Linked DNA regions of Homo sapiens. The gene in region 1 interacts genetically with each later gene. Each region holds a gene or a part of one and is shown in the gene's direction. Other genes may lie near its edges.

Region 1 (3,654 bases):
ATTCCCATAGCATTTTGTTTGTAGCTTGCTTCTGACTCTTATTCTAAATATATATTTTTTTCTCTTGAGTTTGTGTCTGCTGGCCTGTTGGCCACAGTAATATTTGATTCCCCTGCAGTGTCTAGCATATTGCCTTATCTGTATTTGTTAAATGGGGAAGAGTGAGGGAACATTATGAGAGCAGAGAAAAGACAAAAAACTTGTCTTCCAGGTGTCATGATACAGCTAATACTTACTGAGTAAAGGGTCCTGAAGCTGATACAGTTTGTTCAGTCTCTTATAAGAACTAATATTAAGTTATGGATACATAATTGCTGGGGCTTCTCCTCTAACATTGAAAGAGTTCTATTCTAGTGAGAAATGCTGAAGGTTAAGCTTCATTAGCTATGTATAACTCTTCCTCAGATTCAGAAAATACTATGTCCAGGCACTGTTCTAAGTCTATTCTTGTTTAAACTTAACTCTAAGAGAATTTGACAAAGAAAAAAAGAACACAAAGAGAATAAGTAACTTGACCACTGTCACAAAGTTTAGCCTTATGAAGTGTGGTAATTGTAAATGAGGTAGGATTAATCCATGAAGGGTCTTGAATGCCCTAAACAATTTGTATGACAGTCAGTGGGAAGTTGTCCATGTAAGTTTTGGAGCTAGAGACTCAATACGATCAATGTAAGAAAAGTAGGCAAATATGCTTAGTAAGTAAATAAGCTTGTGTAAATTATGAAAAAAACAGAAGATACTAGAGAAAAAATTATTAAGTCTCCTAAGGAATACAGGAACTGGATAATTTGATTGGAATAGTTGAAAATGAGAAGAGGAGGCAAATTTAAGGGTTTACTATGAAGGAAAGATGAGCAGCTTTTGGTAATGGGCTATAAATATTGAGAAGGAACACTTAGGTATTGAGTATCTTCTGTGACTATGCTAGGCATTTTCATTATTTTATTCGGCCGTCAGTCAACAGGCAAAGAAACTGAAGTTTACAAAAGTAACTTGTCAAAACTCTCTTCACATGAGTTATAAAATAGTTGAGCCTATTTTATCCTATATCCACTAATCTGTTTGTATATCTAATACACTAACTCTGAGCAGAAGTAGCAGTCTCCCCAAGGAAGTAGGAAAATAGGAAGGAAGTATACTTTATAGGAAGGTGAATTCAGTTTTATTGGTAACTATCATTTATTTCAAGCCCGTGTCTAAGTGGTGGTACATCTCAAGCAGTTAGAAATAAGGAAATGGTGATTGGGAGCCACTAGAATGAGTTAAATGTTGGCTTGGGTGAGTTCTCAGAGAGTGGTTGTAATGATGGGGCTTAGAAAAATTAAGAACTGGCTAGGGATGGTGGCTCACCTGTAGTCCCAGCACTTTGGGAGACCAAGGAAGACAGATCGCTTGAGCCCAGGAGTTTGAGACGAGCCTTGGCACCATAGCGAAACCTCATTTCTACAAAAAATTAGCCAGATGTGGGGGTGCACACCTGTAGTCTCAATCACTTGGGAGGCTGAGGTGGGAGGATTGAGCCCAGGAGATTGCGGTAAACTGAGATGGTGCCACTGCACTCCATCCTGGGTGACAGAGCGAGACCCTGTCTCAAGAAAATACTAAATAAAAGAAAATTTAAGAAGTGAATCAATCTCAAAAATGCTTAATTAGAGAACAGAAAAATAAAAGATTTCTCAGTGGATATAGAGCCTGAGCCAATGCAGTATATTTTGGCAATCCATTTTTAATTAGTTTTTGGAATTGGCAGATAGTTTTTGAGATTTTTCTATACTTAACACCCCAGAGCATAGATAAAAACATGCAAAAATAAGTATTCCTGTAAAGGTTACATTTCTGCCTTTTCCAGTTTATTGTGATCTTCACTTTGCAGCAAGACTTTAGCAACACAGAAACTCTTAAGGTATTGAAGACAATCCAATATGTTTTTGAAAAGCAATTTTATTTTTGTTTTATTACTCTTGAGTTTGAAAAATGCATGTTCAGAGGAACTTGGAAAATGTATTGGCCATTTTTAATATTATTCAGTTCTGTAGAGGAAAAGTTAAAGTTGATGCCAGCTTACTAAAGATTATTATTTTTATTTTGATATAGTTACAGCTGTTATAAATTTTCATATAGGAATAACAACAAAAGTAGAGTTTAGCAATAATTGACTTTATACTTCCGTTGATTTAGAAGGCTTCATGCAGTCTTTGGTGTCAGAATGAGAGACTACATACATAACTGAACATACTTCTCTGTTGAATATGTTAATTATGACAAGGACCAAAACAAATATCATGAAGGTACTTAGGAGAGGATGAAAGCATACGAAGAATAAACAATAATTTTAACCAAAATCTGGCTTTCGTTTTATTCTTCAAATGTTAGAAGAAAATGTTATATTTTATTTCTTACAGATTTATTTATAATATTGTAAAAATTACTGAAAATCATTATGCAATCTAGAAAATCTCAACTTTTCACTTTTTGTAATCATTTTACTGTTTATGCTTAGAATTAAGTTGGACTTTTCACGTTTTGGTTTTAAAATTAGATTGCTGTTTCACAAAGTTTGGATTTCTAAAATACTTCTATTTTTTGTTTTCTTCTCTCTTCCCTTCCCCTTCCCACTCCCAGTGGACAAACTACATTCATGGGTGGCAGGATCGTTGGGTAGTTTTGAAAAATAATGCTCTGAGTTACTACAAATCTGAAGATGAAACAGAGTATGGCTGCAGAGGATCCATCTGTCTTAGCAAGGCTGTCATCACAGTAAGTTCCTTTTCTTCTTCATTCAACAAATATTTATTGAGTGTCAGCTACATACCAGGAACTGTTCTACGTGTTCAGGATACATCCGTGGATAAGATAAAGATCCTTGTCCTTGTAGAATATACATTCTAATACTTTTTTCCATAAAGTGATTTTACTGTGGTTTTTACTACATATTGTTATTTTGCATAGACATGTAGTTTTTATCTGGTGGGTATATCAAACCAGTTTAAGGGCTTCAGGAAAAAAAAATGTTTGAAGCCTTTTTATTTGTTGAGGCTGGGACAGTTACTTTGTAGGTTACTGAATATTTAAAAATAATACATCTTGTAAGTAACATTCTAAAATTTTAACTTAAAAATATAAATGTAAATTCATTTTTAAACTTTTTAACATTGAGCTAATGCCATCTCTTTGTGGAGTTGGGAGAAGCTGTTCTCATGTTCCTCACACATGATTTGCTATTTACAGTTTTGATTTCTCTAATGTGGAATAAAAGCCTGAAGATAACTTTTGAAAAACTCTAAGTATAGGCTCCTTCTAACTTTTTATGATTTCCCCTTATATTTTGCAGTTACATCACTTTTCTCCAATTCAACACCCTTTAAAAGAATAACTCACCTTCGTTGAGTCATTCTACTTAGTTTACATTTTGTTGTTCTTTTTTTGTTTTTTTGTTTTGTTTTGTTTTGTTTTTGAGACAGTCTTGCTCTGTCACCCAGGCTGGAGTGCAGTTCTGTGGTCTCAGCTCACTGCAACCTCGACCTCCCAGGTTCAAGCAATTCTTCTGCTTCAGCCTCCCAAGTAGCTGGGACTATAGCCACGTGCCATCACGCCCGGCTAATTTTTGTATTTTTAGTAGAAATGGGGTTTCACTGTGTTGGCCAGGCTGGTCTC
Region 2 (3,654 bases), on another chromosome or scaffold:
ATCATCATAAACAACAAAACAACCCCTCCCCATCTCCAAAATACTAGACTTATAAACAGGTATTATTTTGCATTGTCTCTGAATGGAAATTAAATTAGGAACAATGAAAACTGGTTATTTTTCTCTCTGGTTTATGTTCTTTCTGTGTTCTCTTTCCCACATGCTGCCTTAACAGGCGATGGGTGCTACAACAGCTAATTCAGGAAACCTCCTTGCCTTCCTTTGTGACCAAAGGAAACTTGGGAACAATTCCCACAGAAAGGGCACAGCGACTCATACAAGAAGAGATGGAGGTCTGTGGTGAAGCAGCAGGGAGATACCCAAGCAACTATAATGCTTGGTCCCATCGCATCTGGGTTTTACAGCACTTGGCCAAGCTAGATGTCAAGGTAGGAATATTACTGTCTCCTGGGCAGACTGCCTGTCTGCCCTTAAAATCTTCTGGTAGTAGTTCATTCTCAGAAGAGCTTTGAAGGAGTAGAGAAACTGATGGTCTGGCAACTTGAGAGAATCGCAACAGCTGCTACCTCTGGAGGAACCCTGTAATTAAATAAAAAGCTTGCATTCCCCACTAGTGCTGTTTTTGGCAGTCTTAAGGCTAGTGCATTGGTAAAGCAAGGCAGGTTTAACCAACTGAGGAAGATTGAGCATAACTCACTTTATCCTGAAACAGGAAGGGATTATTAAGCCTTATAGAACTGGAATTGCTATTTCTTGGTAGTGTTTGGTTATGTGACAATATACTAAGTCAGCTGGCTGTCTTTTCACACTCTCGTCCTCTGAAAAGGGGGAGAGGAGGGCAGGGATAGACAATCTCACCCAGGTGTTTTTAAAATTGGCTGAGCCTATAAATTACCTGGGGATTCCTAAGTTCCACTCCAAGCCTACTAAAGCAGAATGAGGGTGGATCTAGAGATCAGTATTTTCCACTGACTCAGGGTTATTTGAATGCAGAGCCAGTTTGGAAACTCTCACAGCCTAATCCTTTCAGTTTAGAAATGAGGAGATGGAGATTTCCAGAGAATTTTAATGGCTTAGACTTAGCTACAGTTGTACCACTTATTATTCATCAGAATGAGAGCCACATGTCCCTTTTGCTCCTTATATACTACGGTGTCTCAGTTTTTTCTTTTCTGATGGCGTCACAGTGCCATAAGAATCTAGGGTGCTCATCTAAAAAGCTTCTCAGGCTTGAGACAGTTAAAAGAGGTCAAGTTGAAGATTGAAGTGCCCCAGGTGATGCTTTCAGATAAGTGGGGAAGTGTTATGTAATTTTAACTTACCACCCTCTTCTTCCTACATCCCTCTTCCCATGCTCCCATTTCTCTCTTTGTTTCCTGGCCAGGGCAAATGGGAGACTTTTTACTTCCAGAGGATTTTAAGCCAATAATTCTGGAAGAGAAGCCTTCCCCATTCAGTTTACATGGCTTTGAGTTTCAGGAGGGGTGGCCGCCTAATGGAATAGAAAGAACCAAGGCTCAGAATCACATCAACCTAGGTTCAGATTTTGGCCCCACTACCTATATGTGGAAAGCAAGGTTTTATTGTTTTCATTTATAAAATAGGGACTCTACTGTCTGCCTCAGTGGATTATTGTGAGAGTTAATTGAGTTAATGGATGTAAATTACTGGGCATCTAATAGAGAGAGATTCACTCGATTTTAGTTCCTTTCTCTGTTCTCCAGAGATAGAAAATTGGCTACCAGTTTGCTTGATCAACTCCGTGCAATTTATTGATGAAAAAGTATAAAACCCTATCATACCCACCGACTGTCCTGTATACGCAGTAAAACAAAGTGTTTGCTCTCAACAAATTGAAAATCTAGTTGAGAAAGTAGACCAACAATTACAAAGCATCAGAATACAATGGGAGCACAGAAAAATCGTTCTTCATCTAGGATGCGCTCGTTGGAAATAGCTGCCGGGGGAAGGAAGATACATTGAGTTGGGAGGCATGATTACAAGTTGTTTGGTGGGTTGTCAGGGATATGGAGTGCTTGGTGGTCATCTCAGATCCATGACTTGATAGTGTGTGGGAAGAGGAAAGAGATATGGGGAGGATTGGGGATAAAAAGGAAGGCGGAGTCCAGGTTGACTGAGAGATCTTTGGAAATTTTTCTGCCATGATGTGGACCTTTACAAGTGGCATTTCCATAAAATCAGGAACAAGGGGCCAAAGTGAAATTTTTGGTTACTTGAGACCATCTGGTGGTAAAGATAACTCATTAATGGTGAGTTATAACTCATTAATGGTGAGCTCAGCTGCCAGGGTCCACTCCTGGGTTCAGATGTCATCATCCTTCCTTGACCCGCCCTTGGAGGAAGACTTACCATTCTTCCATTCACCACTTGCCACTGCAACATCTCTTGCTCTTGTTGTCAGTGAGGAGTCCTAAATTTGCAAAATCCCCTTTCTGTTGTTATAAGCCATTGGGCCCACCTAGAACATTTACTACTATGCTTTGTCTGTTACAGGAGGTAATCACAAAAATACCAGTAGTCTAAATCAGCTTAAAAATATATATGAAATGAGCCAGCATTTTTTAACTTAGGAAATTGAAAATGACTTTTTAAAGTGCTGGCATCGAGTATTAGTAAGAGTATGAAAATGAGCATTATTCAAATTGTTATAAGCTTACTGAAGGGCAACATGGCAGCACTTATCACACTTTTAAAAATAGGGTGTTATTTTTAAGAGTTCTGCTTCCAGGAATTCATCATAAAGAAATAATGGAAGATGAAGTATGGTAGAATGATTAGAAGCTTCACTCAGTGGTCATGCAGACCTGCTTTGCATTCTGGCTTTACCACCAATTTGCTGTGTAGCCTTGAGGAAGTTGCTTAGCCTCTTCAACCTTCAGTTTTCTCATCCGGAAAAGGAGGGTGACAATAATTCCCATCTCACTGAGTGATGCAAATTGAAAGGGAGGATTCATATAAAGTGGCTATCAAAGTGCCTTAATTAAGTGCTCAATAAACACTGGCTATTAAATATAGAAGTTTGATATATAAAAGTAGCATTTATAGTAGTGAAAAACTAGAAAAGCTGTAGCCCTTCAATAATGAGGGAATTGTTAGATTACAATCCATCACATTGGAATATTTTGTTATGACTAAAATGTATATTTTGGAAGATGATTTAAAGGAAAATATTCACAATAGGTTATATTAGGGTAGGCCTAATATTATTATTTATTTATTTATTTTTGAGACAGGGTTTTGCTCTGTCGCCCAGGCTGGAGTGCAGTGGCACAATCTCAGCTCACTGCAACCTCCGCTTCCCAGGTTCAAGCGATTCTCCTGCCTCAGCCTCCCAAGTAGCTGGGATTACAGGCACCCACTACCACGCCCAGCTAATTTTTATATTTTTAGTAGAGACGGGGTTTCGCCATGTTGGTCAGGCTGGTCTTGAACTCCTGACCTCAAGCAATCCACCTGCCTCTGCCTCCCAAAGTGCTGGGATTACAGGCATGAGCCACCACACCCAGCAGCCTAATATAATTTTTAATGTATTTATTAGCATTGAATGAGACAGCAAATACTTTAAAGTGTTTGAAACAGTGCTTGGCACATGGTAAATGCTGAACAGATAGTAATACATACACACAACAATGCTATAGATTTTTTTCTTGTATTTTTTATAAAAGCATATAT
Region 3 (3,654 bases), on another chromosome or scaffold:
CATCCCAGGTCCTACTTTGATTATTTTTTTAAGAGAAAAGATCTGTGGACAATATCCTTGTTTTTCTTTGTCTTTAGCAATAAAGACTGTCATCTGCTTAAGAGTAGGCCTTATTATAAAGTTCTGGTTGTTGTGCTTCCCTCTTGCCATTTTCTTTAATAGTGCAAATTCAGCTTGGCATCCTCTGTGATGTCTGGATGATTTTTTTTTTTTTTTTCTGGAACATAGCTTTACATTGTTTGACTATTGCCCATCCTTTGAGAGTCTGCTGTAGATGTAGCAGACAAGAAATTAAAGCCGCCGGTTGCAGTGGCTCACGCCTGTAATCCCCAGCACTTTGGGAGGCTGAGGCAGGCGGATCACAAGGTCAGGAGTTGAAGACCAGCCTGACCAATATGGTGAAACCCGGTCTCTACTAAAAATAGAAAAATTAGCCAGGCATGGTGGCGTGCGCCTGTAATCCCAGCTACTCAGGAGGCTGAAGCAGGAGAACCCTGGAGGCGGAGGTTGCAGTGAGCTGAGATCGAGCCATCGCACTACAGCCTGGGCAACAGAGAGACTCCGTCTCAAAAAATAAAATAAAACGAAATAATCAAAGCCGGGAAAAGTAATAGAGAAATGTACACAGTATTGTTGCTTTTACGGAAAGTTCAAGGATAAAGTAACGATGTTGGTTAATGCCATTAAAGACATACTGGTGATGTTCTGCTGGCACAGCAGCTCAATTAAAACTAAATAATAGTCACTTAAATTTTCAAATTTTTTTTCAACTAAATGAAACCACTAAAAGGTAGAGATCATTTTACCAAAACCCAGGTGGAGTATATGCAGAGAATTTAGTCTAGGAGATCTGTTGGGAATGGTTGAGTTACAGGAAGCTGTTGAGAACTGGAAGCAAAATGAGTATACCCAGGGAAATGAATAAAGCTTTTTGTTTTCCACCATGCTATTTGGTTTTAGTGTTGAGCCATCAGTCAGAATTAATTTTTCCTTCTAAAACATTTGCTGCTGCCTTCAGCTTGTTCCTCATTCTTGGTGCTGAATCTGTCAGTAGGAATGTATCTCCACAATGACGTGGTAAATGCAGATGAGCGTGGCCTGAGGCATGTGCAATATTTAGACATCTGTTGAATGATGTGATGCAAGTTATTTTAGGTAATTTCATTAAAGATACCTAATCTCTCTGTTTCTGTTAAATTTTTTTTTTTAACAAGCCAAGCTCCAGGACTGTGATAAGTAAACACTGAATTTAGACCATTAAGATTAAATGTTACATATAACATTTTCATTATGACTGAAATCATTTCAGTTTATATTACTGATGGGCTCAGAGGCCACATCATGGTATTCACTTTGGTTAAATTGTAAAATGGTTTTCTTTAGAAGGGAATACGGGCTCTAATGGTCATGATACATGTTTTCTTTTTCTTTTTTTCTAACAGAAAGCGTGGATACCCATCAACGAAGTTTTGATATTGGAATTCAGATTGGCTATCAGCGACGCAATAAGGATGTGTTGGCTTGGGTTAAAAAACGCAGAAGAACTATTCGTCGAGAAGATTTGATCAGCTTCCTGTGTGGAAAAGTTCCTCCACCACGAAACTCTAGAGCTCCCCCAAGACTGACTGTAGTGTCCCCTAACCGAGCTACTTCAACGGAAACTAGCTCATCTGTAGAGACTGATTTGCAACCCTTCCGGGAAGCCATAGCTCTGCATGGTAAAGCCGTTTAAACATATTTCTTTGGAAAAATGGTTAAGAGGGTGCCTGTGGACCCATTTTTCACGGTTAGGTTTAGGTCCAGATATACTGTTTTTTGTCTTACAGTAAACAGCTTGCTCTAGAAATGTTTAATAGAATGTAAGCTAAGAACTTAATATGGGCGATTTCTGTCAGCTAACCTATCCTAGAAAATGTTTTTAGAAAGTTAGTTTGAGCTTATTGGTGTTAAAATGACATATCTTTCTGCAGTGTTGATTAGAATTTATCGCTTTACACTTATGTGTTGTACGTGTTTTTTTCCTCTTCTGAAGTCAAAGAGGAAGTTCTTGTGTCTTAAGAATTCTGTTATATTTCTAATGGTCCATGACAGGCAAGTAAGGTGGGAAATTGTTGGGTTAGTTCTCATGGGACCTGGGACCTCCCTTGACACCTTTCTTACTTGGTTTGCTGTAGATGGTGGGAGAGGATGGATGTAAGACTTGACCTTCTGCCTGTCGTCCCTCAGGTCCCTTGCACTTTAAGAGGCAGGACCAGCAGAGTGCAGCCAGTGGGCAGGTGGATCTCTATCTCCCCAGGCCAGACCTGTCATAAGAAGGCACTCTTGGCTAAGGGATTTTAGTATTGCTGGAGAAACCCGGGAAATGTAGTCAGTGATAAGTCTGTTGTTGCTTGTTGCTGTCTAATACAGACTTCCAAATAGAGCTGGGAGAGTTAACCTGTGTGACAGCATTGAATACTGCTGTAGGAAAAAAAGCAACAGAATAATAAGACTTGCTTGAAACCATGATGGAAAGATGGATCACGCAGATGGCTAAGCAGGTAGAAGTAATTAGGTCATGAATCCTTTTTTTCTTTTTTTTTTTTTTTTGGAGACGGAGTTTCGCTCTTGTGGCCCAGGCTGGAGTGCATTGGCGCGATATTGGCTCACCGCGACCTCTACCTCTGGGTTCAAGCGATTCTCCTGCCTCAGCCTCCCGAGTAGCTGGGATTACAGGCATGTGCCACCACGCCGGCTAATTTTTTAGAGACAGGGTTTCACCGTGTTGGTCAGGCTGGTCTCGAACTCCCAACCTCAGGTGATCCGCCCACCTTGGCCTCCCAAAGTGTTGGGATTACAGGTGTGAGCCACTGCGCCTGGCCATGAGTCTTGTTGAAAGTTAACATTTTTGGGCCATAGTACAGGTCATCTAAAACAAAGTAACCTGGTAAGGTACTAAGAAATAGTGGCATATAAAGAAACTTTATAGACGTTGAATCATTGAGACTTTATAATACCTGTAGAGATCTTGTTCTCTCTGGCAAACCGTAGTTCTTTCCTGAAACCCCAATGTTGTTTTTTCCCTTGATAGTGTTTAGGACAATTAAAAACAAAAACATGAATTGCAGGAAAGTTCAGGTTGTGTGGATGCAGTACTTTAAGACTGCACACTGTTCCTGACACAGTGGAATAGTTAGGCTGTCAGAACTTTGGAAGCTCAGGCAAAAATGGGATTGATCTGTTTATGCTGAATTAGAGAGTTTCACATCTTTCCCCCTAAAGTTTGGGAAAACAATTAACTAGAGGTGTACATAGTTTGTTAGATTAATTTTAGCGCATGGTAATATTTGATGCAGTTGTCTCTCCTTAAGTATTGTGATTTTCTTCCTTTATTAAGAGGGTTGTGGGTCATTCCATGCTTCTCTTAAGGTATCTTTTTACTCTGTTTTACTGTTATATTTTAGAAGATAGTTTTAAGAAACATAAAAACCATGCTTGTTATCTTAACGTAGTAGTAGTGTACATAATAGTAAAAAGGGCAAGCCAGCCCCCTCTGCCCTCGAAAAACTGTATTCTCCAACTCCCACTACATTTTCTCATATTGAATCTGTTCCACCTGTGATTTATTGTTTTCCTGAACTTTGGGAGTTTTAAGCAATGATACAGTTGAAGGGA

Evidence for each region.
Region 2: changes in CERT1 (region 1) and PTAR1 are lethal when combined (synthetic lethality), as found in Homo sapiens cells (one study listed by BioGRID).
Region 3: changes in CERT1 (region 1) and HAPSTR1 together harm fitness less than expected from each alone (positive genetic interaction), as found in Homo sapiens cells (one large-scale study listed by BioGRID).

Annotation. Positions count from the first base shown.
Region 1 is NC_000005.10:75,505,085-75,508,738, reverse strand, and holds part of CERT1 (ceramide transfer protein), read left to right. Parts: intron 1-2,622; coding exon 2,623-2,757; intron 2,758-3,654. UniProt on the Homo sapiens protein: Shelters ceramides and diacylglycerol lipids inside its START domain and mediates the intracellular trafficking of ceramides and diacylglycerol lipids in a non-vesicular manner.
Region 2 is NC_000009.12:69,728,874-69,732,527, reverse strand, and holds part of PTAR1 (protein prenyltransferase alpha subunit repeat-containing protein 1), read left to right. Parts: intron 1-175; coding exon 176-389; intron 390-3,654.
Region 3 is NC_000016.10:9,101,542-9,105,195, forward strand, and holds part of HAPSTR1 (HUWE1-associated protein modifying stress responses 1), read left to right. Parts: intron 1-1,442; coding exon 1,443-1,718; exon of another isoform or gene 1,719-3,654. UniProt on the Homo sapiens protein: Acts as a central player within a network of stress response pathways promoting cellular adaptability. The E3 ligase HUWE1 assists HAPSTR1 in controlling stress signaling and in turn, HUWE1 feeds back to promote the degradation of HAPSTR1.